Linked DNA regions of Homo sapiens. The protein of the gene in region 1 interacts with the protein of each later gene in a pairwise test. Each region holds a gene or a part of one and is shown in the gene's direction. Other genes may lie near its edges.

Evidence for each region. Proteins that work in one complex are often made in the same cells at the same time.
Region 2: the proteins of CCDC88B (region 1) and CDK18 interact in binary tests that used the Homo sapiens proteins (3 or more experiments, as listed by UniProt).
Region 3: the proteins of CCDC88B (region 1) and TRAF3IP3 interact in binary tests that used the Homo sapiens proteins (3 or more experiments, as listed by UniProt).

Annotation. Positions count from the first base shown.
Region 1 is NC_000011.10:64,343,182-64,350,206, forward strand, and holds part of CCDC88B (coiled-coil domain-containing protein 88B), read left to right. Parts: coding exon 1-144; intron 145-325; coding exon 326-434; intron 435-596; coding exon 597-733; intron 734-815; coding exon 816-1,976; intron 1,977-6,149; coding exon 6,150-6,277; intron 6,278-6,369; coding exon 6,370-6,487; intron 6,488-7,025. UniProt on the Homo sapiens protein: Acts as a positive regulator of T-cell maturation and inflammatory function.
Region 2 is NC_000001.11:205,507,648-205,514,672, forward strand, and holds part of CDK18 (cyclin-dependent kinase 18), read left to right. Parts: intron 1-4,669; exon of another isoform or gene 4,670-4,813; intron 4,814-7,025. UniProt on the Homo sapiens protein: May play a role in signal transduction cascades in terminally differentiated cells.
Region 3 is NC_000001.11:209,759,032-209,766,056, forward strand, and holds part of TRAF3IP3 (TRAF3-interacting JNK-activating modulator), read left to right. Parts: intron 1-2; 5' UTR 3-103; intron 104-950; 5' UTR 951-1,008; coding exon 1,009-1,353; intron 1,354-3,483; coding exon 3,484-3,631; intron 3,632-3,781; coding exon 3,782-3,839; intron 3,840-4,036; coding exon 4,037-4,061; intron 4,062-4,331; coding exon 4,332-4,361; intron 4,362-4,460; coding exon 4,461-4,556; intron 4,557-7,025. UniProt on the Homo sapiens protein: Adapter protein that plays essential roles in both innate and adaptive immunity. Plays a crucial role in the regulation of thymocyte development.

The DNA of each region.
Region 1 (7,025 bases):
GAGCGGGTGCTCTCGGGGGTGCTGGAGGCGTCCAAGGCGCTGCTGGAAGAGCAGCTGGAGGCTGCCCGAGAGCGCTGCGCCCGGCTGCACGAGACCCAGCGCGAGAACCTGCTGCTGCGAACCCGGCTGGGCGAGGCCCATGCGGTAAGGTAGCCAGAGTGATCCCACTTGGGTTGCCCCGTCACCCCATGACCCCATTGATTCCCTAGTGGTCCCTAGTGATTCTTGCAACCTCTGCTCTTGGTGACCTCTAGTGACCCTCCGACCTACACACTCGGCCTGGCCATGGTGTGGAGGGCTTGTCTGACCCTTCCCTCACCCCCAGGAGCTGGACTCTCTGCGGCATCAGGTGGACCAGCTGGCTGAGGAGAATGTGGAGCTGGAGCTGGAGCTTCAGCGGAGCTTGGAGCCACCTCCAGGATCCCCTGGGGAGGGTGAGGGACCCCACTGGAAGGGCTGGGGTGGGGGCTTCCTATGCTTTCCAGCAGTGTACTGGGGAGAGCCTCTGACTCCCTCCCTTCTCCCAAGCCTCTGGGGTGTGTATGTGAGGAGCCAGGCAGTAAAGGAGGGGTCCTGACCTCATCTCTCATCCTCAGCACCCCTAGCAGGAGCGGCCCCCTCGCTGCAAGATGAGGTGAGGGAGGCAGAGGCTGGGCGGCTTCGGACCCTTGAGAGGGAGAACCGGGAGCTTCGGGGGCTGCTTCAGGTGCTTCAGGGGCAGCCAGGGGGCCAGGTAAGTCCCCTCCCCCAGGGTCCTGGCCGGCCCTTCCCCTAGTCCCTCCCTGGGCCTGACTGTCCCTCTCGTATGCCCTCAGCACCCCCTGCTGGAGGCACCGAGAGAGGACCCTGTTCTTCCAGTGCTGGAGGAGGCTCCCCAGACTCCTGTGGCCTTCGACCACAGCCCTCAGGGCTTGGTTCAGAAGGCAAGGGATGGAGGCCCCCAGGCCTTGGACTTGGCTCCCCCGGCATTAGACTCAGTGCTCGAGGCATCAGCTGAGTGTCCCCAGGCACCTGATTCAGACCCACAGGAGGCAGAGAGTCCCCTTCAGGCAGCTGCCATGGACCCCCAGGCCTCAGACTGGTCCCCGCAAGAGTCAGGCTCTCCTGTGGAGACACAGGAGTCCCCGGAGAAGGCTGGCCGTAGATCCTCTCTCCAGAGCCCTGCCTCTGTGGCCCCACCTCAGGGTCCAGGGACCAAAATTCAGGCCCCGCAGTTGCTGGGAGGAGAGACAGAGGGAAGAGAGGCTCCCCAAGGCGAGTTGGTGCCTGAGGCCTGGGGGTTGAGACAGGAGGGCCCTGAGCACAAGCCAGGGCCTTCGGAGCCCAGCTCTGTGCAGCTGGAGGAGCAGGAGGGCCCAAACCAGGGCCTGGACCTGGCCACGGGACAAGCAGAGGCCAGAGAGCATGACCAGAGGCTGGAAGGGACGGTCAGGGACCCAGCCTGGCAAAAACCACAGCAGAAGTCAGAAGGGGCTCTTGAGGTCCAGGTCTGGGAAGGCCCAATCCCAGGGGAGAGCCTGGCCAGTGGTGTCGCAGAGCAGGAGGCCCTCAGGGAGGAGGTGGCACAGTTGAGGAGAAAGGCTGAGGCCCTTGGAGATGAGCTGGAAGCCCAGGCCCGCAAGCTGGAGGCCCAAAACACGGAGGCTGCCCGCCTCTCCAAGGAGCTGGCCCAAGCGCGAAGGGCAGAGGCCGAGGCCCACCGGGAGGCAGAGGCCCAGGCCTGGGAGCAAGCCCGGCTGCGGGAGGCAGTGGAGGCTGCTGGCCAGGAGCTGGAGTCTGCGTCCCAGGAACGGGAGGCGCTGGTGGAGGCGCTGGCAGCAGCGGGCCGGGAGCGGAGGCAGTGGGAGCGTGAGGGGTCCAGGCTGCGGGCCCAGTCGGAGGCCGCCGAGGAACGGATGCAGGTGCTGGAGAGCGAGGGCCGCCAGCACTTGGAGGAGGCTGAGAGGGAGCGCCGGGAGAAGGAGGCCCTCCAGGCGGTAGGTCAGGTTGGGGCTCACCGCTGGGGTTGGGAAGCAGAGTTCCAGGCTGTTGGGAGTTACTGATTCCATCAGCAGCTGTTCAGTGGGTGCCCAGCACTGAGCTGGGGCTGGAGATAGAAAGGCCAAGTCCACCCCTGCCTTCCAAAGGTGTGCCTGGCCTGGGGCACAGAGCCATGTCCACTGTGTGATGGGGGCGCTGTGGGAGGGGGTGGGACTGCCTAGTACACATCTTGGCTCTCTGGCTGCAGCAGTAGACTCACCTCCACCCCAGGCATCCTTCTGTAAAACAGGGGTACTATTCCTGGCCACCTGGGGTGGTCTTAGGAGGACCTTGGGAGACAGTAGCTGTAAAGGTCTGGTTCATGCTGGCAAGGGTATGTTGTAAGTGTTCAAGCACTGGTTATTCAGAGCCAAGTGCTACGAGAGCCCATGGGAGGGTGAGCTGATGCCCAAGTGGAGGCAAGGAGGCTTTAGGAGGAGTGACCATAATGTCACTAGGTGGGGAGGACATTTTGTCCAGAGGGAATGGCATGTGCAAAGACAAAGGCATTAAAGACGCTCAGGGGCTGGGTGTGGTGGCTCACACCTGTAATCCCAGCACTTTGGGAGGCCGAGGTGGGTGGATTACTTGAGGTCAGGAGTTCTATACCAGCCTGGCCAACATGGTGAAACCCTGCCTCCATTAAAAATACAAAAATCAGCCAGGCGTGGTGGCAGGCACCTGTAATCTGTTACTTGGGAGGATGAGGCAGGAGAATTGCTTGAACCCGGAAGGCGGAGGTTGCAGTGAGCTGAGATTGTGCCACTATACTCCAGCCTGGGCGACAGAGCGAGACTGTCTCAAAACAAACAAACACCATCCAATGAAACAACAACAAAAAAAGAATGCTCAGGGCCCAGGAGGAAGGGATGATGAGGGCCAGCTTTGAATGTGTTGGTCCTCCCTCCCCAGGCAGGGAAAGCCAGGGTAGAACTGTGTGGGGCTGCGCTTGAGGAGGGTCACCTTGGTGGACAGGGGAGCTTGGGGCTATCAGGACGCAGTAGCCATGGTGTAAGTGGCAGAGGAAGCTGACTAGGGAGGCATGGGAGTGGGTGTGAGAGGAGGACTGGACACTTTTTTCTTTTTGAGACAGAGTCTCCCTCTGTTGCCCAGTCTGGAGTGCAGTGGGGTGATCTTGGTTCATTGCAACCTCCGCCTCTCAGGTTCAAGAGATTCTCCCACCTCAGCCTCCTGAGTAGCTGGGAGTACAGGCACACACCACCACGCCTGGCTACTTTTTGTATTTTTTTTTTTTTTTGAGACGGAGTCTCGCTCTTTCGCCCAGGCCAGACTGCAGTGGTGCTATCTCGGCTCACTGCAAGCTCCGCCTCCCAGGTTCACGCCATTCTCCTGCCTCAGCCTCCGGAGTAGCTGGGACTACAGGCACCCGCTCCCGCACTCGGCTAATTTTTTGTGTTTTTAGTAGAGACGGGGTTTCACCATGTTAGCCAGGATGGTCTCGATCTCCTGACCTCGTGATCCACCCGCCTTGGCCTCCCAAAGTGCTGGGATTACAAGCGTGAGCCACCGCGCCCGGCCAATTTTTGTATTTTTAGTAGAGATGGGGTTTCATCATGTTGGCCTGGCTAGTTTCTTTCTTTTCTTTTCTTTTCTTTTTTTGAGACAGAGTCTCCCTCTGTCACCAGGCTGGAGGCGTGATCTCGGCTCACTGCAACCTCCACCTCCCAGGTTCAAGCGATTTTCCTGCCTCAGCCTCTCGTGTAGCTGGGACTACAGGTGCATGCCACCATGCCCAGCTAATTTTTTGAATTTTTAGTAGAGACAGGGTTTCACCATGTTGGCCAGGATGGTCTCAATCTCTTGACCTTGTGATCTGCCCGCCTCGGCCTCCCAAAGTGCTGGGATTACAGGCGTGAGCCACCGCACCTGGCCAACACACTTTTACTTATTCATTTAAACATGTTTACAGGCATCTTCTTGGTGCCAGGCCCTGTACCAGGCTCTGGGCACACAGCAGTGACCACGAAGCTAGCAATCCAGTGTTTGGGCGTGGCTTCAGCTTCCTTCCAAGCTAAGGAAGGGGTTAGGGCTTTTGCCATGGGGGATTGGGCAGCCACTGAAGGCTCCCCAATGGGCAAAGTGAGCAAAGTGGTCAGGTCTGCGTGTGAAAAGGCGCGAGGAAGGGTGTTTGGGCCAATGGGCCCCAGTGCTAGGGGACCTGTGAGATTGCAACACAGGTAGGAACTGAGTCATCCTGCACAGGCAGTTTCCAGTCCCATTTCTGTACAGACAAGGACCCTGAAATTCAGGGAGGAAGAGTAATTTGCTCAGAGACCCATTATGAGGATGGGGGGTGGGGAGAACACTGCTGGGTAGACATGGGGTCAGGCGTTGTGCAAGACAGGCCCAGGGTAAGGGGGTTCTGGCGAATGTGAGAGGGAAGGTGAGAGACCATCTCTGGGGTCCACTCTGTGGGGTGTGGCTGAGATGCTGTCTAGCCGGGCGACCTGCCTACTTTCCAGCTGTGTGGCTTGGGGCAAGTTACTTAACCTCTCTGAGTCTCAGTTTTCTCACTTGTAAAACTGGAATAAAAATTGTACCTGCCTTGGCTGGGCACAGTGGCTCACACCTGTAATCCCAGCACTTCGGGAGGCTGAGGTGGGCGGATGACCGGAGGTCAGGAGTTCGAGACCAGCCTGGCCAACATGGCAAAACCCCAACTCTACTAAAAACACAAAATTAGTCGGGTGTGGTGGCACGCACCTGTAATCCCAGCTACTCGGGAGGCTGAGGTAGGAGAATTGCTTGAACCCAGGAGGCAGAGGTTGCAGTGAGCCAAGATCGCGCCACTGCAGTCCAGTCTGGGTGACAGAGCAAGACTCCGTCTCAAAAAAAAAAAAAAAAAAAAAAAAATTGTACCTGCCTCACAGGATCCTGTAAGATAATGAGCGTAGGGAGCTTGGGGCAATGCCTGGCACCTAGAATGGACCTGTTCCATGGGAGGGAATGGCAGCAGGTAGGCAGTGAAGGTGAGGGTAGGGCTGGCGGGCTGGAAGAGCCGGCTCCAAGGACTGAGAGGGTGGGGGAAGCTAGGGACAAAGGGGGAATTTTGTGAGATTTCCTGGTTGGAGCAGGAGAAGGTGGCTGGCCAGGGGGAGGTCAGGGAACCAGGGGGTCTCAGGTTGTCCACTGGGTGGGGAAGCCTCCCAGGCTTGGGGGAGGGGGTTCTAGGAGGGCTGTGGCCAGGGCCCGGAGGAGGGCAGGGCAGGGGCTGGGCGGGAGGTTCTATTCACCGTGCCTCCTACCCCAGTACTTGCGCTAGTGGCTGTCAGCCAGCCAGGCAGCAGTGCCTCATCGGACTTGTAGTTTTTCAGGGAGAGGTGGTGGCCAAGAGTGTCAGGAGGTGCAGTGCCCCTTGGGCAAGGCCTAGGTGCAGTTATTAAGCCAGGAAGGTAGTTTTCAGCAGCAAGGCTTGTAGGCTTGGTTTCCAAGGCAGGATTTGGCTGGCAGCTGGTCATGGGCAGCTGTCCCCGAAGCTTCATCCTGCCAGGCCCCCCATGTGGCAGAATGGTTTGGTCTCCCTCCCTCTGGGGCACACAGGCCAGAATGGGCCTCCCGTCTCCTTCCAAAGTGGTGCAGCCCAACCGCCAAAGGCCACAGGTCACCTAGCTGGCAGCATCCTGGCGCCCCCTGCCCCCCCAGCCCCCACTGTCAGCTCCTGACTTCCTGTCCCTCCAGCCCTCCGTGGCCTTTTCCCTGTAGCCAAGGTCTCTCACCCGACCCACCTCTGCTGAGCCTCTCTAGCTGTCTCGCTGTCACATGGCTGGGGTGGCAGCCCACCGGGCGCATCCACCTTTCACTGCGCACATGAAGAACCGTGGGCTCAGAGAGGTGACGGCACTTGCCCAACATGTGTCACCTACCGACTCCCAGCCCAGGGGCCTTCCTCATGCCCTGCCAGGCTTACAACACCCAGCTCTTTCATGCCCAATTTCAAGGGCCCCAGGCTTTGCTCCCATTTTATAGATGGGGAAGTAGAGCCCAAAGGCTTAATGATACGTGCCCAGGATGGCAGGTCAAGGACAGAAAGGCAGCTCTCTTGACTCTCAGGCCTCTGTCTCCGGCTGTCTCCTGCCCCCTTGCCCTGAGCCTGCTCTGCTTGCCCTCAGGAGCTGGAGAAAGCTGTGGTGCGGGGCAAGGAGTTGGGGGACCGGCTGGAGCATTTGCAGCGTGAGCTGGAGCAGGCGGCTCTCGAGCGCCAGGAATTTCTGCGAGAAAAGGAAAGCCAGCACCAGAGGTGGGGACAGGGCTGAGGGGAAGAATGAGGGAGGCAGGGGTGTGGTGGGGCGAGGGTGGGGTGGGGCTGGGTGCTAAGGATTCTCCTGGCAGGTACCAGGGCTTGGAGCAGCGGCTGGAAGCTGAGCTGCAGGCGGCGGCGACCAGCAAGGAGGAGGCGCTGATGGAGCTCAAGACCAGGGCCCTGCAGCTGGAAGAGGAGCTGTTCCAGGTGATGCCTGCCCGCCTGGGAGCTGGGGGCCATGCCACCCTGCCCTCCATCCCATGAGCAGATGCCAGGGTCATCTGTCCTCCTAGTCTTGCCTCTGGATTCTTGGCTAGCTACTTGCCTCACTCCCCATGTGGGGCCTGTTGGAGAGAGCACTGTGCTGGGAGTCAGGTGGCCGTGTTGACTTATCTGGGGTCTCATTTTCCCCATTCTGCACATGGACAGAACTTCTGCTGTGGATGACTGCTCCGCCTGTCTCACCCGAGGTCCTCCACTGCCTAGGGAGCTCAGTGTTTGGCATCAAGGAAGCCAGCGATGGTTTCTGATACCCAGGCTGTGTGCGGGCTCCACACGGAGGGTGGGGTGGTGGTGGGGCCCAATCCCAGGCTGCCATCCTCAGGGAGCTCACAGGACAGTCAGGATAGAGGCAAGAAAACAGGTGACAATAACTAGGTGCCAGGGGCTGTGAGGAGGCCATGCAGGGGCTTGGGAGGGTGGTACCCAGCAAGATACCCAGCAGGTGCATGCGAGTCTATCAGGG
Region 2 (7,025 bases), on another chromosome or scaffold:
AAAAAAAAAAAAAAAATAATGCACAGTGCCTGGCATGTAGCAGAGACTAAATAACTGGTAGCTATAGTGGTTGGTGGTGCTTGTTTGGAAAGGGAATTTCCTGGTGATTGCACCAGGGCTGGTCTAGAGACCAAGGTAGATTTTCCCAGCCCCATCAGGCCAAGCCCTTAGTTAGACAGAATCTTTACTGCTCTTCCAGGTTAGGGAGGAGGGCTCTGTGTAAGAGAATGGTGGTGGTGGTAGGGGAATGGGTTGGATGGAAATCTTCCAGGAGGGGCCAGGAATCTGTGCTGTGGGGGCCCTACCTTCTGGCAGTTATGAATGAGGCAGGCACTGGGAGCTGGAGAGGCAGCAGTCTCTTGCTCTGAGGGCCCTCTGGCAGCGCCTTCTTTCCCTGAGGTAGGAGGACCCTCCCCTGGTACTTAATTAATTGCAGTCCCTGTTCTGCTCTGTTGTTCAGGGTGAGTGGCTGGCCTGGTTCCAGGCCCACCTGATTAGCCCACCTTTGGCAATAAGTCACATTTCTCTTCCTCGGCTCTGTGTCCCACCATAACCCCTTACGTCCCCTTCCCTGGACTTTTCACCTTTGCCCTCCAGGCATTCCCTGCTGAGTGGGCACTTTCCCACATCCAGGGGGTGGGAGCAGACCAAGGTTAATCTTGTCCTGGCTCCCACAGCTGCTTACACACACACAGCTGCATGCACATGCACACACAGGCTGGGCTCACAACAGCTCAGGCCAAGGGTCTGGGATCCAGGATCACTACAGAGCTGGTAGCTGGGCCTGGCTGGAGCTGGCCAGTGGTTCAGCAGCAAGTCTGGAAGAGGAAAAGCCGTGGGCGCATCTCCGCCAGACCTCCTGTCTGAAAGAGAGCCCATCTGCTCCTAGAATCTCCACAGCTACATCTGCAGAGGAGGAGGGGTAGTGAGGCAAGTGTGAGGTTTGGTTTTAAACTGAAAAGGGAGGTGGGCGGATTGCTTGAGCCCAGGAGGTCGAAACCAGACTGGGCAACATGGCAAGACCCCATCTCTAAAAAAATACAAAAATTAGCCAGGTGTGGTGGCACGCGCCTGTAGTCCCAGCTACTCGGGAGGCTGAGAGGGGAGGATCGCTTGAGCCTAGGAGGTTGAGGCTGCAGTGATCCATGATTGCATCACTGCACTCCAGCCTGGGCAACAGAACAAGAACTTGTCAAAAAAAAAATTGAAAAGGGTCTTAGGCCGGGTGTGGTGGCTCATGCCTGTAATCCCAGCACTTTGGAAGGCCAAGGCGGGTGGATCACTTGAGGCCAGGAGTTTGAGACCAGCCTGGCCAACATGATGAAACCCTGTTTCTCCTAAAAATACAAAAATTAGCTAGGCATGGTGGCGTGTGCCTGTAATCCCAGCTACTCGGGAGGCTGAGGTAGGAGGATCGCTTGAACCCAGGAGGTGGAGGTTGCAGTGAGCCGAGGTCGCACCACTGCACTCCAGCCTGGGCGAGAAACAAAACAAAACAAAACAAAAAACGGGTCTTGAAGCAAAGCTCCCTGACAGCATGAGTAACCCTGAAGAGACTGGACACCTTGCTCTGGGAGACATGGGCCAGAACTTTTGAAAGGACTATGATGAGATCCTCTTTCCTGGAGCTCTTGATAATGGTCCCACCCTCTGAGCCTCCCTACCCCCACCATTAAATAAAAGTCTTCCCTAGAAATGGTGGAGTCGGGATAGACAAGATGACCCAATAATGGCTGGCTGGTGCACTCATCATTATTTATATGTTGAGTGTATGTCTCCTGTCCACCATGGGTGGAGGCAATTTATGGACTTTGGGGTCAGTTCAGATTCTGCCTCTTCCACTCAGTAACTGGTTGCCTTAGGTTAAGTAATTTGCTCACCCAGGTTTCAGTTTCCTCATTTATAAAATAGGAGGATAATACTATTATCTCATGTGATTGCGAGGACTCCAGTGAGATAATGTCCACCTAGTAGCTCTTTGCTTTACCTGATGTCATTATCAAGGGGTGGTGGCAGAGTTAATGGGCTACATTTGGTAGTTCTCAGTGCCTTTGGCCCCACTTGATATTTTTTTCTGAAATCAGGGTCCCTGCAAACATCAGGGATCAGCCCCCAAATTGGGAAGAGAACTCTATTCTTAAAATGTTTCTGGCCAGGCACAGAGGCTCACACCTGTAATCCCAGAACTTTGGGAGGCCGAGGTAGGTGGATCACCTGAGGTCAGGAGTTCAAGACCAGCCTGGCCAACATGGCGAAACCCCATCTCTACTAAAAATACAAAAATTAGCCAGGCATGGTGGCAGGCACCTGTAATCCCAGCTACTCCAGAGGCTGAGGCACGAGAATCGCTTGAACAAGGGAGGCAGAGGTTGCAGTGAGCCAGGATTGTACCACTGCACTCCAGACTGGGTGACAGAGCAAGACTTTGTCTCAAAAAAAAAAAAAAAATTTCTACCCTCCCTCACTCTGAACACTGTTCCCCATCTTATCATTATCGAGGGAAATTCAGAGCTCCAGAATGATTACTGCCCTCACACCTTGCTTCCCTAAAGAAGCCTGCCCTTTTCTGCCTGGGGAGTCTCCTCAGGAACCAGACCTTCTTCTCTTCTCTGGCCCCAGCCACCCAGCACCCTGGGCTGCGGGGTGACCAGCCCAGGAGGTGACAGGGCTGTCCTTCCCACATCCTGGCAGGACCCACTGCCTGGAAGCAGGTGGGCGGTAGGTGTTATGCTAGAGGGCATCACTCTTGACAAAGCAGCACTGGCTCCCAAACTCTGCCTGCAACATGGGATGAGCCCAGGAAAGGGGTCACAGAGCCCCTCCCTGATCCTGCCGTGGAGCCCAGCTGGCAGCATCCCCTGCCGTGGCTGGGCTGGGTGCCATGTTCTGTGTGGGTGCCAAACCTGGCATGGCTCCTTCCCAAGGAAGGTGGCCCTTGGGGATGCTGTGACTTTCTTGGCTGTGGTGACCAATAAAGGGAGTGCCATCTCTACGCAGGCCCATGCAGTCCCTTCCAACCCTGCACAAAGTCAGAAGCCCAAAGTGTGGTCCCAGCTCTGCCCTGTCACCCTCAGTGGCCTCGGGCAGATCGCTCACCTTTCTGAGTCTTGCCTTCTTTGCCTGAAACATGAGGGTGCAGACCAGGGGATTTCCAAAGGCCCCTCTGAGGCTGCTGGTCTGAGGCTCCGACTTTTGCCTGTCCTGCTAACAAGGTGAGCTGTGTGCTGGGGTCCCAAGAGGGGCTCAGCCTCCTGTTCCTCCAAACTGTAGAGCCAGGGGCTTGCCCCAGCTGATGGCTGGGTACCTGGTCCCTGCCATGCTGAGATGGGCAAGGAAATCCTGGAATGCCTCAGCCCTGTCAATTAGGAGGAGAACAACTACCTCGCAAAGAAATGGATGCTGGATTCAAACACTACACAGGCACTGGATGCTCAAGGCTAGGGGTTGGCAAACCATGGCTCTTGGCCAAGTCCCGACAGTTTTTGTATGGCCCATGAGCTAAGAATGATTTTTACATTTTTAAGCAGTCGGTAAAAAGTCAAAAGAAGAAAATAAAGTTTTGTGACCCTTAAACATTTTATAAAATTCAAATGTTAGTGTTCATAGTAAAGTTTTACTGGTGTGAGGCCAAACTCATTCATTTACATCTTGCCTGTGGGTGCTTTTGTGCTGCAAAGGCAGAGTGGCAGAGTGGCGACAGAGACGATGGCCCGCAAAGCCTAAAATAGTGGCTGTCTGGCCTCTTACAGAAAAGGTTTGCTGACCCCTGCTCAAGATAATCATAGTTCTCTCCAGGCCTTGCACTAAACTGCTCCAGGATCTCAATCTAAAAGTACTTTCTTTTCATTTAAAAAGAAGTGTTGCTATTTTCTTCTTATGTAAGCAATAAATGTTCATTATGGAAATATTAGAAGATGCAGATAAGCAAAAAGAAGACATTAAAATCACCCATAATTCTATCACCCAGGAATAACTACTGCTGGTGTTTTGACTTACCACCTTCTGGGTTATCTAACAGTGTGCTGTGTTTATATGTGCATGCCTGTGACACATGTGTATATCCTGCATACGTACAGCTTTTACAAACTGTACACATCTGTCCTCTTCACTTAAAAACACATCTTGGCCAGGTGCGGTGGCTCACACCTATAATCCTAGCACTTTGGGAGGCCGAGGCGGGCGGATTACCTGAGTTCAGGAGTTTGAGACTAGCCTGGGTAACATGGTGAAACCCCATCTCTACTAAAATACAAAAAATTAGCTGGGTGTGGTGTCGTGCGCTTGTAGTCCCAGCTACTTGGGAGGCTGAGGCAGGAGAATTGCTTGAACCCGGGAGACAGAAGTTGCACTGAGCCAAGATCACGCCACTGCACTCCAGCCTGGGTGACTCCGTCTCCAAAAGAAAACACACACACACATACCTCTAACTGAACCCTTGGGGGACACACAGGCAGGGTGCCCAGAAGGCAGCTGCACCCAAGCATCTGGAGCTGAGGGGCTTGGTGGGGCCAGGGCTACAGATCTGGAGTCATCAGCACGCGGGTGGTGGTTTCCACTTCGGGAGGGGATGAGGTCACCCAGGAAGCATGCCCAGAGAGGAAGAGCAAAGGGCCAAAGAGAGAATTGTGGGAGTGTTGACATTCAAGGGACAGGTAGAGGAAGTAAGTCCACCAGACCCGGGAGGAAGGAAGAAGCAGGAGGAGACCCAGGCAGCCAAAGGGAGTGGAATCCGAGGCCCAGGGCCCAGGACAGTGCCTGGCGCTGAGCAGGTGCTTGTGAAATGAGTGAGTGACTTTGAGGAGGCTGAACCCTGGTGAGTGAGTGACACTGATAAAAGACATTTAGAGAACAGTTGAACAACTATGAGATGTTCAGAGGCCTGGGGGAGGCCATGCAGGCCAAGGAGGCCTCCTGGGCCCAGCCTGGTGGGAGGGAGGCCATGCGGAGTGTGAGGAGGGAGAGGCGGGGCAATCCAAGTGACCAGAAGCTGGGAGCTGGTCAGAGGAGCCCAGTGGAGTTCTTGGCGGTGACATGAAGCTGCTTTTTTTAAGCTAGTCTCTCAGATTGGAATGAGGAAAGTTGGAGACGACCAGCCAGGGGTTCTTGTCAGAATGTGGGCACTGGGCGGCGTGGGCCAGCTGGTGGGGGTGGAGTATAAATAGGAATATGGTTTAGAGATGCTGGGAAATCCTCCCCATTCCCTCCCCCTCCTGAGACTGAGAGGTCCCCAGGGATGCCAGGCTCAAAGGCCCCTGCAGTTCTGTTGCCAAAGTTGGGCATGGAGAGAAACCCAGAGACAGGACTGAAGGTCCCATGACAGGCCAGCAGGAGAGCTGGACACGGGATATCTGGCTGAGAGAGGGCTATTGGGTGGGTGAACTCAACACTCTTCTTTTCTTCTCCAATTTATTGTGTAAAAGATGGTAGGCACCAGTTTCTGTGCCAGAGCAAGTGGAGAGGAAACAAGCTGTTTCCTCTGGTATTTAAGGAAGACCTAAGGAAAGGTTCCAGACTTTGGGATCTCAAAAACACAGGACAGTTGGGGAAGGACCTTCCTTGAGTGTCTTTAAAGAGGGCTGATAAAAGGAGCAGAGAGGGCTCCTCTGGCTGGGAGAGTAAGGCGGGCTTTCTCTGGAGGCAGGAGGATGGGGGAGATGGAGGCCAGGCCTATCCTGGCCCTTGCCCCTTGCTCTGGTCTCTGATCTGGGATGTTCTGTACGCCCAGGACCAGAACTGACAGAAGGGCTCCTTGTCCCATCTTATCACTTGGACATCCTGAGCCTCCTCAGAGAGTGCAGACCAGCTTTAGCTGGGCCCCCAAAAAAGGTCAAAAGGAAAATACCAGAAGATGCAATATGCACCTCTATTCCTTAAGCCTCAGGAAGCCAGAGAGCAGCAGGGTGGACATCAGTAGGACTGAAGTGGAGCCACACAGAGGGGCTAGATAGGAGGTCGTGTGGGGTCAGAAAGGGTCATCTGTAGGGGTCAAGGCCAACATCTGAGCCTGAGTAGTGCACCTGCCCTACAAGGCTCTGAGAATCTTCCCTGAGTGATAGAGCCAGGAAGAGGGCCACAAGCCCCTCCGAACCCCTTCCCCACAGCCCTGGAGGCCCTAGCTCAATGCATGTTGCAGGAGGAACTTCTCATTCGGGTTCTTCTCATTCCAGTCCACCCCTCACTGTAGGATGGTGCCTCCAGCCCAAAAACCTCCACAGACCTCACTGGGGGAGTAATTGCTGGGCAGGACACTGCCCCCACTGCCTCAGCCCATCTCCCGCTGCTGTTGGGCCACATGCTGGCTAGAGGAAGAGGGTCAGGTTTCAGCTGAGGCCTCGAGTCCAGCTTTCATATTTCATTTGCTGGTCATTTGAGGGCTCACTTTGTCTCAGGCTTTGGGTCAGGCTCTGGGGGTGCAATGACGAGTCACGCCACAGTGCTTGCCCTTAAAAAGCCCACAGGCAAACTAGGGAAATGACAAGTAAACAGTTACAGGACAGGGAGCCAAGTGCCCTGCCTTGGGATGTCAGAAAGCTGTGGGAGCACAGAAGAGGGACCATCACCTGGCTGGGGACAGTGGAGTTTCGGGCTAGAGGAGATGCAGAGGTCCCCATGGCAGGATGAGTAGCACGTTGTTGGTTTCTCCCTAGTCCCCCATCCATCTGCTTGGGTACCAATCCCTGTATTCCTGTTCCCTCTGAAACCCAAGAAAACTGAGGAGGAAGCATGCCCCGGGGAGTCTGGGGCTGGGTGACTGGACAGTCTAGGCTTACTCTAGTGTGCCCAGAAAGAGGACAGGGCCAGGCCCACCCCAATCATGCTCAAGTCTAACTAGGACAGGAGATGGCCTAATGAGAAGATACACCTAGAAACAGGTCCCTGGCCTGCCTGAAAGTGGAAGGAAAGGCACCAACATTTATTGCACGTGGCAGTGTGTCCTGGATCTTAAAGGTGACTAAGATACAGTCTTTGTCCTTGAGGGATCTAATGTTTCCATATCTGTAGAGGAAAGAGGTTTAAACAAGTCA
Region 3 (7,025 bases), on another chromosome or scaffold:
AGCAGCCTTATTGAGGTACAATTCATGTGCTTGTGGGTTTGGATGGCACAATCTGTGTCTGGGCTAAGGAAAGCAGACTTGGCACCAACATTAACCCTGACAGGTTGGTAATCCTAAAGAAATGGAACCCTCAGCCCCAACAGTATTGGAGCCAGATGCTCTGAAATGGGTTTTGGCCAGCACTAGGCATGTGGCAGATGCTCAGTCAATATTGATTGGACTTGATCTGCACCTGAGAGACACAGCCCAGTCCTGAGCTTGGAGTGGGGGGCCCATGGACCATTGTCAGGACAGCAGGTTGGAGGAATTAGGGTAGGGTTTCCCTCCTAAACCATGCCAGGTCCAGGCTCACAAGCTCGTTGCTAAAAGTCAAGAAGAGAGCAGTGGGTGCTGGTCACAGGACTGGTCACCACCTGAGGGGGTGTGGTTAGCCCTCCAGATCCTTGAGAAGTGTCACTCAACTATGTTAGTGACAGCTTGGACCAAGAGACCAGTAAAGATACTGACTTTCCTTTTCAACTGGGGGATAAGAGGGCAGATTGGCTCAACTTAGCTGCTTCTCTAGAAGTCTGGAAAATGAACACACACCTGCCATCCAAGAGGCTATAAGCTCATTATGATTTTAATCAATTATTTCTCATGTTCCCCTGACTCAGAGGCATGGTAAGATGTTCAGTCAAGGAGTAAGTGGCAGCCATAGAGACCCTTTTACTTTACAAAGGGGAAACATCGGCTAGAGAAAAGCAGGAATTCACTTTTATAAGACTGTATTAGTTCATTAGAGACTGAGCCCAAGAGTCCTGACTCCCACTTTGATACCACCATGTCCTCAGTTTTCAACCCACATGGATGGAACTCTGTGCTATTTCTGCCCCCTGGTCTAGGGAGATAGTCATTTTTCTGCCCATCTTCTGACCCCTCCCCTTCTCCTCCCTCTTGGCATTTGGCAGATCCAGGCATCTATTCCAGGAACTGGAAGCCAAGCGCAACAGGTGCTTGGAGGTCATCATGATCAGCCCAGACCCCAGGCCCTCCCCTGGCTTGGCCCGGTGGGCTGAGAGCTATGAGGCCAAGTGTGAGCGCAGGCAAGAGATCCGTGAAAGCCGCCGCTGCCGTCCCAATGTGACCACTTGCCGCCAGGTGGGGAAGACGCTGAGGATCCAACAGAGAGAGCAGCTCCAGAGAGCTCGACTGCAGCAGTTCTTCAGGAGGAGGAACCTGGAGCTAGAGGAGAAGGGCAAAGCGCAGCATCCCCAGGCCAGGGAGCAAGGGCCCTCCAGGCGGCCAGGACAGGTGACTGTCCTCAAGGAACCCTTGTCTTGTGCCAGAAGGATTTCTTCTCCCAGAGAGCAGGTGGGCCGTGTCAAGGGACATACTGCTGTGTGCTCTGGGACCCTCTCTGGACAAGGAGGGTGGGTGGGCTCAAGGTCACTAAAAAGTGACCTAAATCAAGTCCTTCTTCCTCAGTCATATAGTAAAGTTGCCAAGAGCTACTTATAGTAAAGTTGCCAACAGCTACTTATTCAGAGATTTTTGCTGTTGTGTTTTCGTTTGTTTAGCTCTTTTTGTTCTGCACTTGACTTATAAGAGAGAAAAAATAATTTTTAAAAACAATTTCAGGCTGGGCATGTTGGCTTATACCTGTAATCCCAGTACTTTGGGAGGCCAAGGCAGGAGGATCACTTGAGGCCAGGAGTTCGAGACCAGCCTTTTGATAGAGACAAGACCCTGTCTCTATCAAAAACTTTACAAACTAACCAGGCATGGTGGTGCACACCTGTAGTCCTAACTAATCAGGAGGCAAAGATGGGAGGATTACTTGAACCCAGGAGTTTGAAGCTGCAATAAGCTATGATCACACCATTGCACTCCAGCCTGGGCAAGAGAGGGAGACCCTATCTCTAAAAAACTTAAAAATAAAATAAATAAAAATAATTCCAAAGCTAATGCCTATATCAGTTCAAATTTAGGCAATATACACATGTCTTCTACAGCTATCTTACAGCATTCATTCATCCATCAGTCATCAAATATTTACTGAAAGCTTATTATATGCCAAGCACACAGGCCAGTCTTCTTGACACACACACAGACATATCTGTCCTCTTTTCTTCTGCAAGGCTGTTGTGCCCACTCTTCTCACTTCCTCTTGTGTCATTCCAATTCTATTAAATCACTTGACTATAGCCTCATCTGGTCCAGGAAGCTTTCCCTGGCTTCTCCAGGCCACCTCTGCTGTCTATGGGCCTTGTGAGGTTAAAATCTTCTAAGATTGTGTAACCCTTAGAGGGCCCATTAGTCTGGCCTGGAAAGGAACAATGTTGGCAAAAACCAGGGTATGCTGAGATGACCTTGGCCAGCAAACCATCTTCCTACTGAAGTTGTGAGCATGTTGACAGCAGGGATGTGTCCACTATGTTCCATGGTAATGCTTGGCATTGTTCCCTACCCAGAGTGGGTACTCTATCAGGGCTTCTTAACTAGTGGATCTGTTATGCTCAATAGGAGATGCTGTTCAGAGAAATGATCCTAGAGCCCAGTTGCAAAAGAAAAGGAACTGTATACTAAAGCAAAAAACCTTCCCACAACTCCCCACTTTACCTAGTCTTCACACAAAACCTCAATGATTTTCTAGCTGTTACTAAGAGAAAGGAGGCTTTCCTTTGAATATGGAAGGAACCTTATGGATTATCTATTCCAAACTCCTCACTACACAGACAGAAGACTGAGACCTAGAAAAGATGGGATCTGAACCCAGATCCCCTCACTCCCCACTCAGACCAGTTCTCTTTCCACATCACCATGCTGGCTATGTAAGTGGCCATAACCAAACAAGGTAGAGAGAGAAAAAAAAACAACAACTAGAGATTCTAGAGAGAAAACCTGGAGAAAAGTACAGCTCCACATATGCCTGGCCTGAGGAGGACCATTTCTGCCAGTCAGGACAAGGATATCAGGAGCAGGAGAAGCCTGTGTGGCTCTGAAAGCTTGAGTGGGCTACTTTGGTTTTGTGGATCTGAAACATTGTCTTCGTCCTGTAATGAATTACCACAGACTGGGTGGCTTAAATAACAGAAATTTATTTCTTACAATTCTGGAGTCTGGAGTTCTAAACCCATGGATTCTGCAGATCTGGTGTCTGATGAGAGCACTCTTCCCACTATGCAGATGGCCTTCTTCTCATTGTGTCCTCACAAGGCAGAGAGCAGAGAGAGAAAGCAAGCTCTCTCGTGTCTCTTCTAATAATGGCACTAATCCCATTCATGAGGGCTACCTGCTCTGACCTAATTATTTCTCAAAGTCTCCACCTCCTAATACTATCACATTGGGAGATAGGATTTCAACACACAGATTTGGGCGGGGGGACAATAAACACTCAGTCCATAACAAACATGATGGTTAGTTCTTCCTTCCGAAATCATCAGGAGAGTCTTTCAAGAGGCTCCAGGCAGTGGTTTTCAGCATTCCCCACTTGCCTTCCAGGTGACAGGCACCAGCTCTGAAGTCTTTCCAGCCCAGCATCCTCCTCCCTCAGGCATCTGCAGGGATCTGTCTGACCACCTCTCCTCACAGGCTGGGGGCCTTCCTCCACAGGACACTCCCATCAAGAAGCCACCCAAACACCACCGTGGTAAGAGCAGAGCCTCCCTCACTCCACAGGGCCTGCAGAGAATCCTGAGACAACTGTCCCAGCTCACTGGCAATGGAGAGTCCCTGTCCCTCCCCACTTCCCTCACTTCCTCCCTGTAAGTTCTAAATCAACTTATCCTCCATCTCTCAGGTACTCAGACAAAGGCAGAAGGACCAACAATTAAGAACGATGCCAGTCAGCAAACCAAGTGAGTTCCTGACCCTAACCCTCTCACATCCCATCCATTCCTCTCTAGAGAGAACACAATGAATTTCCATGTCCGCCTTAATTAAGAAAGAGGAAGCCCTTCCCCACCCTACTGGCTCTTCAGAAGGAATCAACCCACTGCCTCCTGACTTGATTCTTTGGTCCATTATCATTATTTTTAATTTCTTCTCTTTCCAGTTACGGAGTTGCAGTTCTGGATAAGGTAAGCACATATTCACTTTGAAGGGGTCAAATCAGAAAGTATTAAGCTCTGACATTCTGGAATTCCATGATAAACTTGGCTGGGATGGAGGGGCATCTTCTTCCTGGATGGCAAGGGGGTACTGAGCATAGACATGGGGACTAAAGGGACCCTGTCAGAGCCAAAGCAGAAGAGGTTTGCTCTACACAAGCCAGCCCAGGCTCTGGTTCTATATCCCAGGGTTTCAGGGGACTTACAGACATTTTGAATACCCTTGTTCTTTCTCTCCAGGAAATCATCCAGCTTTCTGATTACCTCAAAGTAAGTGGCATGTGACCCCTCCCCTCAGTTCCTCCATCCACTTACCCCCGATCCTCCAGGTTAATCTTACCCTCTTGCACTTTGTGCCCGCACCCCCAGGAGGCCCTACAAAGGGAGCTGGTCCTAAAACAGAAAATGGTGATTCTCCAAGACCTACTGTCCACTCTGATTCAGGCCTCTGACAGCTCTTGGAAGGTAAGGGAATGAAATTCTTTTTGAACAAAGCTTGGGCTTCTATGTGTTCCCATCTCATTTTTCTTTCCACATCATCACAGTAAGAGAAGGGGTTTTCTCACTACTGAAAAGTAAGCTGGGAAGAGGCAGGAGATGAGGGGGATGGTGCTCAGACCTAGAAGTCAAACAGGTCACAATAAATATATGGGTCATCACCTGAGGGTCATGGTGCTACATATCCAAGGAAGACCCAGAAACAAAAGTGGCAAGAATTCCCATTTTTTAATTTGTTGGAAGGAATGAAGGAAGATCCCAATATAGTTTACATTACTAAATATGCTAAATGTCAAATATTTTCATATGGGATTCCCACTGATATTTATCGAAACCAGCATGCCATGTACCCACTCAGTCCGAATAAAAATATCAGAGTGGGAAGGGACCTTAGAGACAATCTGGCCTAATACTCTCATTTTGCCCATGAGGAAACTGAGCTTCATAGGGGTCAAGTAACTTGCGAAAAGTCACACAGCTAGGTAGTGGCAGATCTGCAACTAAAATTCAGGCCTTTGATTTTAGTCCATTCAATGTACAATATTCATAGGTTATGTCCTCTATACAGAGCACTGGACTAGCACTAGAAATAATGAGATTATTTAGATAGGGTTCTTGCTTTGAGAAGGCTCACGGTTTTGTAAGAAAGACACATGACTAAACAATACAAAAACATGAAAAATAAAAGAAATGTTTTCAAGATATAGGAAAATACAAGAAGGAATGAGTGACTCCAGAGAAGAAAAGAGCCAGGGGAATACTTATATAAGCATTTGCCAGGAAAATATGGAAGAAGGAATAGTATTTTAGTTGGGGTACAGGCAAAGGTCTAAAGGCAAGGCCGGGGGTGGTGGCTCACACCTGTAATCCCAGCACTTTGGGAGCCCGAGGCGGGTGGATCACCTGAGGTCAGGAGTTCAAGACCAGCCTGGCCAACATGGCGAAACCCCGTCTCTACTAAAAATACAAAAATATTAGCTGGGTGTGGTTGCACATGCCTGTAATCCCAGCTACTCAGGAGGCTGAGGCAGGAGAATCGCTTGAACCAAGAAGGCAGAGGTTGCAGTAAGCTGAGATCACCTCATTGCACTCCAGCCTGGACAAAAGAGCGAGACTCCATCTCAAAAAAAAAAAAAAAAAATCTAAAGGCATGACACAGTCTAGTAAAATGGTTCTCCAATTTTTTTATTTCAGGATTCCTTTATACTTTTTAAATTATTGAAAATATATAAGAAATGTTTATATTTACCATACTAGAAATTAAAACAGTTGGCCAGGTGCCGTGCATCATGTCTGTAAATCCCAGCACTTTGGAAGGCTGATGCAGGAAGATCACCTGAGGTCAGGAATTAGAGACCAGCCCGGCCAACATGGCAAAACCCTGTCTCTACTAAAAATACAAAAATTAGCCAGGCGTGGTGGTGCACACCTGTAATCTCAGCTACTCCGGAGGCTGGGCCACGAGAATCGCTTGAGCCCAGGAAGTGGAGGTTGCAGTGAGCGATGATAGTGCCACTACACTCCAGCCTAGATGACAGAGCAGGACTCTGAGAGACAGGAGAGAGAGAGAGAGAGAGAGAGAGAGAGAGAGAGGGAGAGAGAGAGAGAGGAAGGAAGGAAGGAAGGAAGGAAGGAAGGAAGGAAGGAAGGAAGGAAGGAAGGAAGGAAGAAATTAAGATAGAAATTGAGAAAGAATTATTAATTTTAAAATAATGAGAGTAAAATTTTTCATGCTAACCTGAATTACATGTTTTAAGAAAAACAGTCTGGGTGCGGTGGTTCACACCTGTAATCCCAGACTTTGGGAGGCCAAGGCAGGTGGATCACTTGAGCTCAGGAGTTCAAGACCAGCCTGGGCAACATGGCAAAACCTCGTCTCTACTAAAAATACAAAAAATTAGCCAGGTACATTGGCATGCACCTGTAGTCTTAGGAACTCAGGAGGCTAAGGCAGGAGAATCTCTTACGTCCCAGGGGTGGAGGTTGCAGTGAGCCAAGACTGCACCACTGCATTCCAGCCTGGGCGATGGGAGTGAAACTCTGTCTCAAAAAAGAAAAAGAAAAAGAACCATATTTTCAAAAACAAAATTAGTGACAGGAGTATCATTGCTTTACACTTTTGCAAATATTTTTAATGTCTGGCTGAAAAAAAAGACAGCTAGCTTCTCAATTTGCTTCTGTATTCAATCTATTGGTTTAAACATAAAGAAAAATTCAGTTTCACACAAATATGTCATTAGAAAAAGTAAGACTTTGCTGATCCCTTAAAAGGGTCTTGGGGATTCCCAAGTTTCCTCAGAATCCCCATGTTGAAACCTGTAAATTAGTATGTACTATAAATTCATGTATTAATATGAGCTACAAGCAGCTTGACACCACCAAAGCATACCGCACCGGGTGGAAAGAGATGGAGCACACAACCTCACCGGCCTGTGT